Linked DNA regions of Homo sapiens: region 2 is linked to region 1. Evidence: fine-mapped expression QTL. A gene starts in region 1. The other region holds a variant in brackets. All regions are shown on one strand. Distances are from middle to middle.

Region 1 (8,326 bases):
CACCCCAGCTCAAACCCAGACTCCCCAGACGGCAGGAGGCCCGCTGAGCCAGCAGCCTTCAGACTGGGGAGGGGCAGGGTGGATAAAGAGGAAATCAAGACATAATGCTTGCATAGTGGAGGGTACGCAGCTGTTCTTCCAACCCCCACTGAGTGACAAAGCTTTGACTCTACCAAGTGGGAATGAAATCAGAATCTGGGAAGGTTTCCTGACCGTGGGGATGGTAAGACCAGAAGGGGTCTTTGGAAGCTCCTCTAGGCAAAAGTTTTTGTCATCATTTGCTCCCTTCATCACCTCACCCCCAAAAAACTAAAAAACAACCAAATACGGGGCCCCTTGCTGAATTTCAGTCTCCCCACCTGTAAAATGGGGGTAATCCCTTTATCATTTGTCCTAGACTCCTGGAAGATTTCATTAGAAAGGGTTTGGGGGTAACTACAGACCCTTCCTAAATCAGACAAGCCCCAGAAGTTTCTCTATTCATTAGGAACCCAATAAGGTAAGGAATGGTCTATCCAGCTAGAGGCAAAATGCACTGGAAACTGGGGAGGATGAAGGAAAACAAGCTTAGCCAGCTCGAGCCCCAACATCAGCTGGAAGAGATGATGTTAGGTGTCAGGCAGCCGCTGAAAGCAGGTACTAACATGAGAAAGTCTGGGAGTCTGGCCTGTAGCAGCTCCAGCCCCTCACCAGCAGGAATCAAGACAAGACAAGCCCATGGCCTACCTCGGTGGTGGGTGTGGCTAGGAATCCCTATCCCCAGCGACATCTGTAGCGCCCTCTCTTTGGCAAGGAGTCCCAAGCTGAAAGATGTACAGCCTTAGGCTTTTTGAGTCTTCATTTCTTTTCCAAAAATCCCCTGTACTCAGCTCTGATGGGGGTGGGGAGAGTTCAGGAATAGAAGGCAACATGGAGGATTGCAAAGTTCCTCGTCTAAGATTAGCCTAGGAACTCACAAATTCGTTGTGTGACCTTGGGCAAGTCCCCTCCCTTCTTGGGGCTTCAGAGTCCCCGGTTTGTAATGAAGAGGTTGGACCAAGTCAATACTAAGGTTCCTCTCCTGGCCATCATTCTACAGCTACATACAAGCTCACTCGTTGGATGTGAGCCCCCTGGCACAAAACTCAGCGGGCCCTGCCTGCCAGATCAGTGGGGCAGTGGCGGGTGGGAGATGCGGGGGCTGTATGTGAGGCCGTTCATCCTATGTTCATGTTCCTTTTAGAAACACCTGCCACCCTAGCCCTCCCAGCTCCCTTTTTAGACCCTGATTCACTGCCAACTCACGAAGCCTCTCCCTCCCCTCCCTCCTCTCTTCTCCCCCCACCCCCCACTCTTTTAGGCATTGGCAGCTGGGTGCAGAAGTAGCCCCAGCATTCAGGGAATGCTGCGCAGTGGTAGAGGGCAGTGCCCCCAGGGTCAGAGAGAGCACACCAGGAAGTACCACTCTCTAACCTTGGCCCAGCCCAGTTCTTTGGGTCACTGAAAGACCTGGGCTGAGGTCTTTCTGTACCACTAACTAGCAGTGTGTGGTTGTGGAAAATGCAATTCATTTCTCAAGCCTCAACATCTTCATCTGTAAATCGGCATTATATTTGGTTGAACCATATGAAATTGCTGTTTTTGTAGGTTAAATAAAAACAGTTGAATATTGCAGTTGCATATGGCTTAACGTGATACCTGTCCTGCCTGCTTCCCAAGGCTGTTGGGGAAATAAGAAGAGTTCAGAGGGCAGCATTTTCAAAAGCCCTGAACTAATATGAGGGCATTATTTTATTATTATTACTTCAAAGAGCTTAGTACAGACCCACCCGGAGCCAGTGGACTGAACCAATAACCCAGAACTTGAAGGTTTGGGACTTGGAAGTCTGGGAGAGCGCCACCTGCTCTGATGACTAACAGGGCAGACGCTTCCACCTGGCCTCCTCATCTCCTAGCTCTAAAAGGCCCTTGGTGAAACATTATTGAGATGACACAAGTTCCCAGGCCCCCAAAAGGAGAAGCAGCACACGCAGGCACATACTCCAGCTCGCCCCAGATCCCCCCTCCCACCCACCAGGGGCCTTAGCATGCAGGAAGGACACGACCAGCAACATCCCAGAGGGCACCCCCTGAGGTAGGTGAAGGTAGAGACCAAGCTGGGGAGTGCCACAAAGCTCTTGCCTGAATCAAGGGTCAGGGGTCCCCAGAGAAGTGGGGAATGATCTGACCTCGGAAAAGTCTCATCTCCCTGTCCCATATCCCACCAGGAATGGGGGGACAGTGGGGGGGACAGAGCCCAGGTGTGGGTGATTCAGAGTGAACCGCGCTCAGATACACTCTCTCTCACACAGCCAACGCACGCGCGCGCACACGCACACACACACACACACAGTCACACAGGGCAGATACCGGGACCCACTCACAGAGACAGTCACGCCGGCACACACATCCATTCACACACTCACAGACACACACAGGCACACATGGGGACAACACACACTCATTCACTCACATGTCCACAGATGCATACACAGTACCACCCTCCACACTCACGCTGCATACACCCACTAACATGCACACACACTCTCGCCCACAGTGACACACGCACACACTCACGGCATACACTCACCGGCACACACAATCGCCCACAGACCCACACAGTGACACACTCGGCACAGACACACAGCGACACGCACTCACATTCACACACCTGCAGAGGAAACTTCTCTCCGGATCTCCCCAGCACCACGACTTCCCCCACAACCAGCTGGCTACTCCCTCCCAGACCCGAGCCTCCAGCCGGGCGAGGGCTGGGCCGGGGCTGGCCTGTCCCCGCGGCCCTGACCGGGAGCGTGGGTCCGCGGTCCGCGTGGTCCCCTGCCCGCCCCTCGGGTCGGGCCCGCGGGCAGCCAGGCCGGGGCAGGAGCGGGGGCAGCTGAGGAGGCCCAGCCCCTCCCCCCTCCCGGGGCCGGGAGCCGAGCGCCGGAGCCCGGGGCGTGGGCGGCGCCGGGGCCGCAGCCGGGCCGTGCCTGGGGGGCGCTGCAGAGGGAGCCGCGAGCGCGGCCCCGTCCCCACTCCTCCCCGCGGCTTACCTGGCCCGGCTCGGGCTCCGGCCGGGTTACATGGTGCCGGCGGCCCGGGCCGGGGGCGCTGCGGCGTTGGGCAGGCGGGCAGGGACCGGGGCCCGGCACTGCGGAGCCCCCAGCTGAGGGGCCGCGCCGGCTGCGGAGCCCCAAGCGAGCGCCGAGCGGCAGCGGGCGCGGGAGCGGGAGGCGGCCAAGCCACGGAGGCTGGATTTCCCGGGGACCGGGAAGGGGAGGCGGGGGGATCCCGCCCGCGCGCTCCGCCCCCGCCCCCGCCCCCGCGCAGGGCAGCCGAGCAGGGAGAGGGAGAGGGAGAGGAAGAGGGAGGGGGACCGAGCTCCCCGCCCCCGCGCGGACCCAGGAGGGCCGAGGTCGCCGCCCGCGGGCGGCCGCCGGGGTCCCGGAGGAGCGCCCACCTCGCTGAGCGACGGTGCTGGGGGCGCCCAGCGTAGGGGCAGGAATGAGATCCCCCTCCCCGGGGACCCAGGAACAGGCACCCGAAGTGTCACGGCCACGCACAGCCGACCTGGGTACAGGGACCCAAGCCCGGCGGCGGGCGGGCGGTCGGGGACCAGCTCAGCCTCACGGACCGGGTCTCGCCCCCCGCCGAGGGGCAGTCACGCCCTGAATGTCACACACAGCCCCCAGGCCCGTCCGCTTAGGAGACTCTCCTTCGGGCTTTCCCGGTCGGCCGCCTGACCTCAGCTCCTGGCTTGGGGTCAGGGAGCCCCCCTCTTCGGCCCCAGCCCCTGCCAGGATGGGGCGCTGTGCCCGGCCTCGGAGCCGCTGGCAGGCGTCCCCCACCCACAGTCCGCACAGCCGAGGCATCCCCAGTGTGGAGGGAGAGCCCCGCTGTACCTGCCGCCTGTGCTGGGCCCCCGCCCGTGCCCACTGTGCCCGCCCGCCTCTGGGCCCTGAGCCTGGGATTGTGCCATGGCGGGGTCGGGGTGGGGGGAAAGGGACTGTCCGAAGCACAGCTGGAGGCTGCGGAGCCCGGACACAGGCTGCGGGAGCCGAGAGGCGGAGAGCGGACTGCAGCAGTCCCCTGGCTTGAATCCGTCTTGGCGCCCAGAGCGATGCTGTAATGGGGGGGAGGGGGCCACGGTGGGGAAGCCGCAGGGGGAGGGGCTGAAGACGTGGGGGAAGGGGTGGCTCCGGATTCCGGCTTTCCAGGGTAGGTGTGAGGAAACACTGCCTCCGGCGCTGAAAGTTGGGGGTGGAGGTTCAGTGGGCATCCTTAAAGCCCTCTTCCCTCCTCTACCTTTTCCGGTCTTGAAAGCTTGGGATGGTGAGGTGTGGGCTTGGGAGGCTTGAGACTGCCCACCTCTCTAGGAACATACCTTGGAGTTGTTCTGATTCAACGGCCCCCACCCCGCACCCCAACAACTCCCTGCTCTCTGTTTCCTTGTGGGGCCACCGGCTCTCCTCCCTGTATAAAGGGGAAAGTGAGGCACGGAAAGGAGAAGCCAAAGGCCCAGAAGAGCTAGAACTGGGAGCCAAGACCTCTTTTCCCCAGGGAGATGATGTTTTAAGATGCCACATTACATTAAATAACATAAGGGGCTTGGAGAGCCCTCTTCCCAAGGGATACCTAGAAGTCTGGTAAGAGACTAGTAGATTGGTCACCTACCCTGCTGCTCACAAGAACGGTTCATTGTCTCTTCAATCATGAAGTGAGGTTGCAGACCATTTCCAGCCCAGGGTTCAGTCAAGAGCAGATGTCATGAAAATAAGAAAGTTGTTCCCAGGAACCCACTTTAGAACTGAAGGAAACATCTCACTTTCCGTGGAGCATAAGAACAGCCGTTGGGCCGAGCGCAGTGGCTCATGCTTATAATCCTAGCACTTTGGGAGGCCAAGGCGGGTGGATTACCTGAGGTCAGGAGTTCAACACCAGCCTGGCCAACATGGTAAAATCCCGTCTCTACTAAAATTACAAAAAATTAGCCGAGTGCAGTGGCACGTGCCTGTAATCCCAGCTACTCAGGAGGCTGAGGCAGGAGAATTGCTTGAACCCGGGAGGCACAGGTTGCAGTGAGCTGAGACTGTGCCACACTGCAGCCTGGGCAACAGAGCCAGATTCAGTCTTAAAGAAAAAAAAAAAAAAGGATGAGCTGACGGCCGGGCACAGTGGCTCACGCCTGTAATCCCAGCACTTTGGGAGGCTAAGGCAGACGGATCACCTGAGGTCGGGAGTTCGAGATCAGCCTGGCCAACATGGTGAAACCCTGTCTCTACCCGAAATACAAAAATTAGCCCGGTGTGGTGTTGGGCGCCTGTAATCCCAGCTACTCAGAGGCTGAGGCAGGCGAATCACTTGAATCCGGGAGGCAGAGGTTGCAGTGAGCAGAGATTGCACCATTGCACTCCTGCCTGGAACTCCGTCTCAAAAAAAAAAAAAAAAAAAAAAAGAACAGCCGTGATAGAGGATGTTAAAAAGCACCACCGTGTTTTCGCAGTTCTAAGACCTGTATTTTGTAAACTATTCTGAAACTGGAAAGCATCTTACAATAAACAGGGACATTTAATATGGCTCTTCTTACCTTTCTGTTAAAGCTATTAGAGTTGGTGCATTTTAGAATTGAGAACATAATGTTATTTTCATTTGTTCATTCAACAACCCTTTACTGATTATACCTGGCACCTTGCTAGCCTCTTGGGGGCATACAGGTTAATCAGACAGGCTTACCTTAGACAGTGTTCTCCCATAGCCATCCAGTGATTAATAACTGATTAATAAGGGAGATGGAGATGTAAACCAATAATTACTATCAGGGCCAGCTTCATGGGAGTGTGACCTGTGCAGTCGTACAGAGCCCCACATGTAGAAAGGCATCACTCTTGGTAGAATATTCTGCTGTCACTGTCTTAAAATTGTTAATAATTTTTGGACAAGGGGCTCACCCTGGGCCTAGCTCTGCCTAGGTGAAGAGGACAGTCAAAGAAGCACAAAAAGCTGGGCGCGGTGGCTCACGCCTGTAATCCCAGCACTTTGGGAGGCCAAGGCAGGCAGATCATGAGGTCAGGAGATCGAGACCATCCTGGCAAACACAGTGAAACCTCGTCTCTACTAAAAGTACAAAAACAAAATTAGCTGGGCATGGTGGCGGGCATCTGTAGTCCCAGCTACTCGGGAGGCTGAGGCAGGAGAATGGCATGAACCCAGGAGGTGGAGCTTGCAGTGAGCAGAGATCACGCCACTGCACTCCAGCCTGGACGACAGAGCAAGACTCCATCTCAAAAAAAAAAAAAAGAAGCACAAAAGAAGCATTTGAATGGAGTCTCAAAGATTGGGAGAGAGACTTTCAGGTAGAGAGTCACATGTGCAAAGACAGAGACTCAGTGTCAATCAGTATGACAGTTGCCTTAGTTGATCTTCCCACTGAAAGCATGATAAATAGCAAAAAAAAAAAAAAAAGATAAAATATTTTTATTAAAACACAATAAAGAAGAGAATATATATGTATAACTATGTACATTTTTAATATTCTTAAATGTATCAATGTGCTGGCAAGAAAATAAGAATCACTCCAGCCAAAATCTAGGTAAAGGCAGAACCAGAGAAGTAAGCAGAGCACTGAAGCCAACTTTAGCCTTGGGGGCTGTGAAAGATGTGTTGCAAAAAGGGCACCAATTCTCTACCTCCACCCGAATCCATCTCCTTTGCCCTGTGACTTTGCAACTCCCTGCATCAACAGGTGGACTCTTTGGAACAAGGATCTCTGAGGAGAAAAAAAAAAAAAAAGAGGCAGACCCTACTTTCCCACCCCTTAAATCTGAGTGGACTTGTAACTTGCTTTCGCCAATGGAATCTGGAAGAAGTCATGTAGTGCCAGTTCTGAGCTTAGGCCTTCAGAGACATGAATACTTCTACTATTTCTCTTGGTCTCCTGCCTTCACTATAAGAACAAGCCTCAAGCCTGAGACAGCTGGAGGATGAGTGACAAGGTGGAAGAGAGCTATACCATCCCAACTGTCCCAGCCAAGATCATCATGGACCCGCCTATAGCCAGCAGATCTCCAAACATGTGAGAGAGCCCAGGCAAGAGCAGCAGAGATATCTACCTGTCCACAGCTGACTGCAGACACATTAGTGAGACCAGCTGAATGAGAAGAACTGTCGAGCCAATTTGAAGACTCTTGAGCAATAATGAATGCTTATTAATTTAAGCTACTGAGCTTTGGTATGGTATGGTATTATGCCGCAATATTATGGCATTTAATAACTAATACAGGGTCATTTGCTGACAGATGAAATTTAACTTCAGTTTTCATGATCTCTCAGGGCACCAGAGATAAAAGATAAAACCCGAGTCTGCCCAAGATGGTCACATACTCCCCTGCATAAGCTTAGAACCCCAAAGGGCTGTACTCTCAATGTACAGGAGAGCTAGAAAAAACCTCATCCCCAAACCTAGGAAATTGTAAGAAAATTGCAAGCTTTAAACCTTGGCAGTAGTAATGAGTGTAGGAAGGAAGAATCACCTCCTGAGTATCCATTACTACGAGTTAAATTTCACATCACATGCAGTCAGATCCACTCTACCTAAAGGATCTGGAAAAACTCAAGCCAAGAATTTGGTATAAAATGTACCAGATTGGTAGTGCCTCAGGTGCCCAGCAGAAGCAAATGTAAATCTTTGTCTCAGGCCTCAAATAATTTCCACAGATAAAATTCCAAAGAAAATGAATAACTCACAGTTAAATGTCTGTCACTGAACACACAAGGAAACATGGCACTGTAAATAAGAAACAATGTGATTGTTCATTTTTATGTGTCAACTTGACTGGGTTAAGGGATACTCAGATAGCTGGTAAAACATTATTTCTCGATATGTCTGTGAGGGTGTTACCAGAAGATATCAGCATTTGAATCAGTAAACTGAGTACAGATCTGACCTCATCAGTGTAAGCAGGCATCATCCAATCTATTGAGGTCCCAAATAGAGCAAAAAAGGCAGAGCAAGGCAAAGTTGCTTTCTTCTTGAGCTGGGACATCCATCTTCTCCAGCCCTCGGACATCAGAGCTCCTGGTTCTCAAGCCTTCAGGCTCAAACTGAGAGTTATACCATTGTCTGCCTCAATTCTCAGGCCTTTGGGCTCAGGCTGAATTACACCACTGGCTTTCCTGGTTTTCCAGCTTTCAGACAGTGTATCGTGGGACTTCTTGGCCTTCATAATTGTGTGAGCCAATTCCCCTGATAAATCCCCTTCCATATGTCTACATATAGACCACTGGCTCTATTTCCCTGGAGAACCCTAAC
Region 2 (8,326 bases), 64 kb before region 1:
CTTTCTTTTGGCCGTAGTTTCATCTTTCAAATAAAACTATGAGGTTTCCATCTTAGCCTCCCACCCCCAACTCTATGGGTCCCTTCTGGCCGTATCTCCTCCACGCCCTCCACAGCCACCATAACCTGTCACCCTCTCCAGCCTATGCTTTCATTCCCAACACACATGTGCTTCCATGGCTTTGCCCAGGTTGGTCCCTTGGCCAGAAATGAATTTCTCCCTTCTCTTCCTTGACTACAAAATGCTAATTCATCCTGCAAGATCCAACTCACAAGGCAGAAGGCTTTCCCAGACTGCCTGTGCTATGGTTGTACCCTCCAAAACTTACACTGAAATTTGTCATTGTATTAAGAGGTGGGACCTTTAAGAGGTTATTAGGCCATGAGGGCTGCACTCTCATGGGTGGATTGACACCCTTATAAAAGGGCAAGTTCAACTCCCTCTTGCCCTCTCTTGCCCTCTCACCTGCCATGGGATGACACAGCAAGAAGGCCCTCACAAGTTGCCAGCCCCTTGACACTGAATTCCCCAGCACCCAGAACTGTGAGCCAATAAATACCTGTTCATTATAAGTTATCCAGTCTGTGGTATTGTTATAGCAGCACAAAATGGACTAAAACACCCTGGTTGCTAGAGGCTCTCTCCTCTCAATCCCTTGGCCCCTCTGGGAGAACAGGTTTCCCTTTGCACCATAACTTTCTGTTTATATGCTGGCCATGGCCAGACTGTAAGCAACTCAAGCAAAAGGACTGGACCTAATCTTTCACTATCTATGGGGCTCAGCATAACTACCTAGGCCACAAGAACCAAAGGAGACTCATCCACACCAGACATGGAAAACTCTATGAATAAAGTCATAGACCCATAAAATGCTGTATAAATGTAAAGGTTAAACTCAGACTCAGCCACTTCCTGGCTTCATGGTTTGAGGTAAGCTGTTTAAACCTCTCCAAGCCCATTTCCTCATCTGTAAATGGGGGTGAAAACAATATCTGTTTTACAGCATTGCTCTGAGTTCAAACCTCACCCATGCCCCCAATTTTAGAGATGATAAAACAACCTCAGAGAGGTAAACTGACCCAGCCCTTCTACTGGAGACCTTTGGACAGTCATCCAATTTAAGTCTTCCCAAAGCTGGCTGCTCAGAATCTTGTGAAGCACTTGTTAAAACCTTATTCGAGGGCAGAGTCTATTCACTAAGTCTTGGACCAGGCCCAGGAGTCTGTATGGGATCACCTCCAAACGGACTGCTTTTGGGAATTCAGATCACATTAGAGTTCTCCTCACCTTCCAGGCTCATGTGTGTACGTGGACCATCTCTTGCTTTTCCAAAGTTGTCTACCAAACCAGTCTATAAAACGTTCATGCCACTCCTCTGTTCAAAACCCTTCTATGGCTCCCTACAGCCCACAAGACCCAGGCCACCTGCCTCAATGAGACCCAAACACTGATATAATCAAGTCTCTGTGCTCCCAATGTCTCTTCCTCTTCCAAGCCTTTGCACAGCTGTTCCCTGATCTTGGAACATTCTTCCCAGCCCTGGCCCTCCTTCAGCAGCTAATCTCTAATCATCTTTCTGGCACTTACTCCTGTATTTTAACTGCTTGCTTATTTGTCTGTTTTTCCCATATGACCATAAGTTCCATTAAGGGTAGAAACTACATCTTGTTCAGGGCTATTCCTGTGGCGCCCAAAAGTGATAAATGTCTGCTGGATAAATGAATGAGAAGAATTAGCTGACCCAGTGTGGCCCAGAAAAGCAGCCAATCCTGAAGGCTTTTCCTCCTGCCTGGAGGTGACACACCAACCCAAAGGACTGCTCAAGGAGTGGAAAGGGGCTTTCTGGGTGGAGACTGCCATCAGCCCTCTCTGGTCTAAGAAGCCTGCAAAGCTAAAAGCTCATGATTTGGCATTAGACCTGGGTCCACCACATTTAGTCCTGTGACCTCAGACAGGTCTTGTAACCTGCCCTGAGCTTTGGCTTTCTCTTCTATTGTAAGGACCAGCCACATTCATGTAAAGCACTCACCCCTTGCCTGACCCACACTGACCACTCAATAAAGCCATCGATACTAGGTTCTGGTTGCCATTTAGCTTCCCAGGAGAGCTCTGTTCTTTGTACTTCCTCTTCCCCCACCCCAGCCTCCACCAAGGTGGCCACCCATAGGAGGCATCAGAAAATGCGGCAGGACTGAAGATTTTCTGCTGCTGATCAGGAATGACTGGAGCAGAAGGAACATTGTGCCCCTAGGGGAAGGGAAACCAATTATTTGTCAATACCTAACAATAACCACACTCCCGGTTTATTGAGCACATGCTGCGTGCCCGGCGAGCTCCGGACTTCCCTCTCTGGGGGAACCCTGCGGACTGGGAGGCAGAACGGGATACACCGAAATAGGAAGAACGGAGAGCTTGGCACCCTCCCCCTCTTCACCCCACCTGGGCCCCTCCAGGAGGGTCCAGGCCCTTACTGTGGGCATCAGGGGGCCGAATCTCCTTTCCACCAGCTGGCCCATCCCTGGAAGGAGCTCAGGCAACCCCTGCTATCTCCAAACCAAGAGAGTGGGCTCCCGGTCCCTTCTCCCTTCACCCCCGTCCTCCCACACACGGGACGGAGGTGGCCTCTTCTGGAGAGAGCAGCTGGCTCGAGTGCAGTTCTGCCGTTTTATTTTTCCTGGGATATTCAAGGGGATGTGGGAACAGCCACAGGTGTGGTGAGGGGAAGCCCCCATCTCCCCTCCCCAGCCGCTGGGAAAGGGGAGAGGCCCAGGCGCCCTGGTCCTGGGTTGGTCCAGCCACTGTGGTCCCTGGGCCCAGTGGGCAGAGGGCTGAGGATGGAGCCCCTGGGAGGGTGGGGCGGGCTCCTAGGCAGGGTTCGGGATTCTTCATAAAAAGCCACGAAGCTTGATCCCCACGAAGCCCAGCCCCGCGGGGTGGGGGAGGGGGGGACGCAGAGCCCAGATGAGGGACCCGGCCCGGCCTGGCCCGTGGGGGAAAGAATGGCAGAGATGGTGCCCATGGGGAGGAGGTGGGGACAAAGCGTCGGACCAGGTGGGCAGGGGATCCAGGTGAGGGGCGCAGGGCGGAGAGGCACGGCCCCCTGCCCAGCCCGGGCGCCTTCGCGTGGGATCAGGAAGGTAAAAAACCCACGAGAGTGTGACGGGCCCGGGGGCCGGGGCGTCCGGTGCCGGTGGGGCGGGCGCACGGGGCGGCCCGCGTTCACAGTGACCTCGACGCTGGGTGTACAGTACGGGTGGAGAACCGCGGGCCCGGGCCGGGCTGGGCGGGCCGGACCGGTCACAGCCTGGTCTGGGCCTCGGGGATGTAGATCTCGATGCTGTCGGCGCTCTCGGTGGCCGAGCTGTGGCGGAAGGAAGCGGCGCGCTTGGCCGCCAGGAGCCGCTTGCGCGCTTCCTGCCGCTGCCGGTCCACGGAGTCCAGGGAGCGCTCCTTCACCGGCACGCCCCGGCCCCGCAGGGGCTTCTTTGGTATCGGCGGAGGGACCTTCTTCTCCTCCTGCGGGGCAGAGGGCGTCGCTGAGCTGGGGCGCCGAACCATCCCAACACCCAGGTGTCCGCCCCCGCACCCCCGCGCCCAGAGTGCTGACGACCGCGTGGCTCCGAACGCGATGGCGCTCAGAATCCGCCACGGATCCCGTGACCTGAAGCCCCAGGTGCTCCTGTTCCGACAAGGTCAAATCCCCACATTTTCCACCAAAGCGCGGCGCGTTCGAGCGCCCCCTGGTGGCGCCGTTCTCAACAGCTCGCAGCAGAGCCGGTTTTTCACTCCGGGTCCCGACCCGAAGGAGGGAGTTCCCGACCCAGGCTCCGCAATGAGGGTGCACATACCAGGCCTCTGGCCCTCATCGCAGACAAGGTCCAGGGACCTGGCGGCTGAGGGGACCCTCAAGGCTCTGCCGTCGATGCCTAGGCCCGAACTGAGGACAGTCTGTCCTTCCGTAAGGTCTACTTTTGCTCTCTCCAGCTGCAGCCGCCGCCACCCCCCCAACCCCGCTCCCCCGCGCTGAGGAAGCCTTGGGGTTCTGGCAGCTCAAGCAGTGATGAGCACTGGGGCCAAGCAGACGGCAGTGGCCACGAGCGTGGTCACTCTGGAAGGGGATGGTCACCTATCACCTGTCCAAGGCTGCCCTTGCTGCCCATGGATCCCTTCCCCTGCCCCCTTGTTCGTCCCACCCTCCACCTCTCTGGGGAGGGGAATTTCCCAGAGTCTGGCCTCTTTGCCTGAAGGCACCCCAGCCCCACCTTAGGCTCCAGGAGTTTCCAGCTGTTGGCCTTGAGTTGCTGTAGCTCCAGGAACTTGAGGGTCACATCCTCGATGGAGAGCTGTAGGAGGTCCCAGAAACCCGCCAGGTCCTGGAAGGTGGGCACAGGGAACGCAGTGGGATCCTGCAACAGAGGAAGATGGAGGGAAAGTGATTGGTCAAGGAGGTCTGAGCCCCAGCCAGGACAAGAGAAAGTCCTATCCACCCTTACTGCCAGGAAGCTCAGCCTGGGAGAGTGGGTGGGGGCTGGGAGACAGGGGGACAAGAGCGAGCCCAGGACTCCCCTTCTTGTGCACAAACACCTGGTCCTACCTCCAGGCACAAGACTCACAGCTACCCCAGAAGGCATGCAGGCCTGGTCTCACCTCTGGTACACACTCACTCTGGGTCACCTGCCTGTCTCACCTCCAGCACACACACACTCTGGGTCACATGTATCTGGTAGGATCTACTACTATGGGCACTCACCATGCTTTGCTGACACAGCCGGAAGAACTGCTGAACCTTCTGGGACAGGAGAAGTTGTGTGCTGCCCACAGCACTGCGGATCTTCTCCAGGACTAGAAAGCAGAAGGAAATTCAGGGA[G/C]GGAAATGATGCATCTCCTTCCCCAGCCTCCACGAAGTCTGCCCTGAATGACGCTGACCCCTCGGTTGCTTGGCACTGTGTATCCATCAGTCTCCTCCAGCCCCAGCCCCATCCCATCCTCAAGTTCCTAACAAGTTCTCGCTCCACTACACCAAGACTGTATCCTCAGACACTGATGTTCCCTCCTTCATACAGCCTACATTTCTTGAGTGCTCATCCTTCTTTATCCTTTCTCCCTCCCGTATCAGAGAACAGACGGAAACCAGCCCCAGCCTAGCCCTATAGCCTTGGCCAGGGCATTAGCTCAATGACCACCCACTGGCTAAGCTTTGTTCATCACTCCCCAGTGCATGCAAGACTCCTTGGCTCTTTAAGAATGACCAAGTAATTTCATGTACATAACACATCTTCATAGCCACTGTCCCCTCAACTCAGAGATTCTGGGGTAAGACTGTGTCTCCCAGTGGATCTGACTTACAGGAAGGGCCATGCTCTCCCTCGGGCCAGGGCCACATCTCCCTGGCTGAATCTCCCTCTTCTGTGCCTCAGACAGGATCTGACATTGTGAACTGCCTCCCTCTCTGTAATCTTGGTCGCACCACCTGGATCCCCACACCAGTCCAGATCTGAACGGAGTTCCCTTAGTCCCCATAAACTTGGTGATTTGGACTAGCAGCCATCCATAGAAGGCCCAGCCCTTTGGCCTGCAGTGTCTGCAGTCCCAGCCCTGGCCTCTAAAGCTGCACCATGTGCACCCTGCTCCCTTTCAAGAGCTCCCAGCATGTCTTGCTGCCGATGTTGACCCGCCACGCTCCAGTGCAGAAGACCAGTGAGGCACCAACCGAAGGGGCCTCCTGTTACACTGCAGCCCCAGCCACCCCCATCAGGGTCTCCTGAGCACACACGAGGCCATGGTCCCCAGAGTCCCCTTGTTCCGATGCCGTGACTCACTCTCCTCGGGTAGCTCATAGTCCTCCGCCTCACGCTCCATCTGCTGGCACCAGTGCTCCAGCTTCTCCACCTCTGCCCGCAGCATCTTGATGAACCACTCGCCGTCGCGTGGGCAGGGGGATGCGCGGCCTGAGTCGGGGAGGCTACGTGAACCGCGCTCTATCCAGGAGTCACGGCGGCCGGCCCCAGGGCCGGGGGTGGGGGCGGGGGCAGGGCCGGGCGACCCATCGGTGGCCGGCGGCTCGTACGGCAGTGGGTAGCCCTCGCGGTAGGCCCACTGGCCCTGCGTGTGGACCGTGCGGAAGACTGAGTAGGTGGGGGCCCGGGGCCCAGGCTGGGGCTCAGAGGCGTGCCTCTGGAAGGAGCGTCCAAACTGCAGGGCCTTGTCTTCTGTGGCCACCGTGGCCAGGCCTGCCAGGCCCTCCAGCTCCAGGTCTGCCTGCACGCCAGCCGTCACACTATTGGAGCGCTTGAACCTTGCTCGCCTGGGGAGAGGGGTGGCTGTCATCCCCCATTGCCCAGGCTCATGCCAGCTCTCACCCCCACCCCAAGCAAAAAAAAGGAAGGGAATGAGAAAGGGAACCTACAAAGTGATGGACATTAACCTATGCACTTTAAATATATTGGTCCTTGCAACAGCTACGTACATAATATACCTACCTATTGCACTGCCTCTAGATAGGGGTGATATCCAAGCTATTTAGCAACCAGTTCAGTCCATGGACAGAGCAGATGCTGGCATATACCAGGCAGAGCAGGCACAGACCAAAATGCTGCAGCAGTGCCCTGGAGAGGCTAGATTGTGGGGTGGGCTAGAGGGGTCAGGGAGGAGCCAGGGTGGTGGCTCTTTACCAGTGAAGGCAGAAGATATTTCAATTTTTTTTTTTTTTTTTTTTTTTTTGGAGATGGAGTTTTGCTCTTGTTGCCCAGGCTGGAGTGCAATGGCGCGATCTCGGCTCACCGCAACCTCCGCCTCCCGGGTTCAAGCGATTCTCCTGCTTCAGCCTCCCGAGTAACTGGGATTACAGGCATGCGCCTTTTGTCTCTTTTTGGAAGAGACAGGGTTTCTCCATGTTGGTCAGGCTGGTCTCGAACTCCCGACCTCAGGTTATCCACCCGCCTTGGCCTCCCAACGTGCTGGGATTACAGGTGTGAGCCACCACGCCTGGCCGAAGTATTTCAATATTTTAACAAATTCTATGTCTATGCTAGTTTACACCAGCTGCACTAGAGTGTCCTCAGCTCTACCTAGAGATGAGTAAACTAAGTAAACCCAGCTTCAAAGTAGCAGAGCCAGGATTTGGACTCAGCGCTGCTGGGCTCCACAGTCCAAGCACTTCCCACTGCACCAGCTGCTAGAACATCACAGGAAGAAATGCCTTGGAGCAGCTGGAGGTGGAGTGGGCCTGCAGCTGGGAGGACTTCTCTAGGGACCCCGATGGCTCAGCCCAGAGCCTGGCCAGACACAGTAAGTCAGTGCCAGTGGAGCTGAATTAAGTTGTTTGCAGGAATGACATAGGGCCTGGAAATTTCTTGTCTTTGAGTTAATAATATGCAAATCTTATGCAAACCAAAAAGTCAACTGGCCGTTTTCATTTTTTCCCTGAATTCAGAGTTCTTTTCTATAAAGAAGTCAGTGGCCGCTTAAGATGCATGAGGTTGGGACCAGGCAATACTTTAAGAAGTGGGAGTCAGGAGATGTGGGAGGTGGGGGATAAACAGAAGATCAAGGTTTGGAAATTCAAGGACCACAAAAGAAAAGCCTGTGTGTCCTGAGCTACCTCCACCCCTACATGGTCAGAAGGGATTGTGGGCCCAGCTCTAGGGTCCCTCCACCTCCCCAAGAGACTCTCCCAACCCCCGCAACTTCAGCCTTTCTCTTGCTGCCCAGGCCTTCTCTCCCTGCCTGCCTGCCTACTTCTCTCCAGCTGGCAGGCTGCCTGCTGGGAGCCTGTTGCCATAGAAACCAGGCCCAGAAGGATGCTGCAGGACCCAGGAAGGAGAGATGCACTCATGTGCAGTCTCCAACGAGCCCTATGTCCCAACCCCCACCCAGAGAGGGAGAAGGAGAGAGAACATATCCTCATTGCCTCCCACACAGTCTTCCCCTCAGTGTCTGCCCTGTCCTGCCCTGGTCAAGGTTTGCATCACCATCTGCCCTGATGATTAGACTGGCCTCCTTTCAGATACCTCTGCCTCCATCAGTACCCTGCAGAGGAAGAGCACGGGGCCAGGAGTTAGCTCTGAGTTCTAATGCTGGCTTTCTCACTGTGTGCCTTTGTCACTCACCCTCCATCTAGGTCATCCAATGTGTATGTGTGTATGTATTTAAAATATATGTATTAGATATAAATATACACACATATACATCTAAAAATACACACATATATACAATTATAGAAATAGATAAGTAATTGCCAAGGTAGTTCCTCTCTCTAAAATTATATTTTGCATATTTTAAGATCTGGGGCCCTCCCCAGTCCACCCAAGACTGGAATAGTCTTCCT

What was found. PIP is the estimated chance that this variant, and not a neighbour inherited with it, causes the effect.
Region 2: its variant is fine-mapped to the expression of DLGAP3 in blood mononuclear cells (TOPMed, PIP above 0.99). The same link has a PIP of 0.9 or more in whole blood.

What each region holds. Positions count from the first base shown.
Region 1 is chr1:34,926,380-34,934,705 of GRCh38, forward strand. It overlaps DLGAP3 (DLG associated protein 3), which reads right to left and starts at 3,271. Exons shown (of 12, transcript NM_001080418.3): 1 at 3,072-3,271. RefSeq lists silencers at 2,780-2,849, 3,830-3,879.
Region 2 is chr1:34,862,786-34,871,111 of GRCh38, forward strand. It overlaps DLGAP3 (DLG associated protein 3), which reads right to left. Exons shown (of 12, transcript NM_001080418.3): 9 at 5,820-6,304; 10 at 4,751-4,842; 11 at 4,263-4,406; 12 at 2,651-3,516. The coding sequence ends at 3,298. Among named protein-coding and RNA genes, the nearest start is that of SMIM12, 7.2 kb to the left of the region's middle. RefSeq lists a silencer at 3,140-3,189 and enhancers at 3,350-3,429, 3,480-3,579, 3,630-3,759. The variant G/C (reference allele first, on the strand shown) is at 4,869.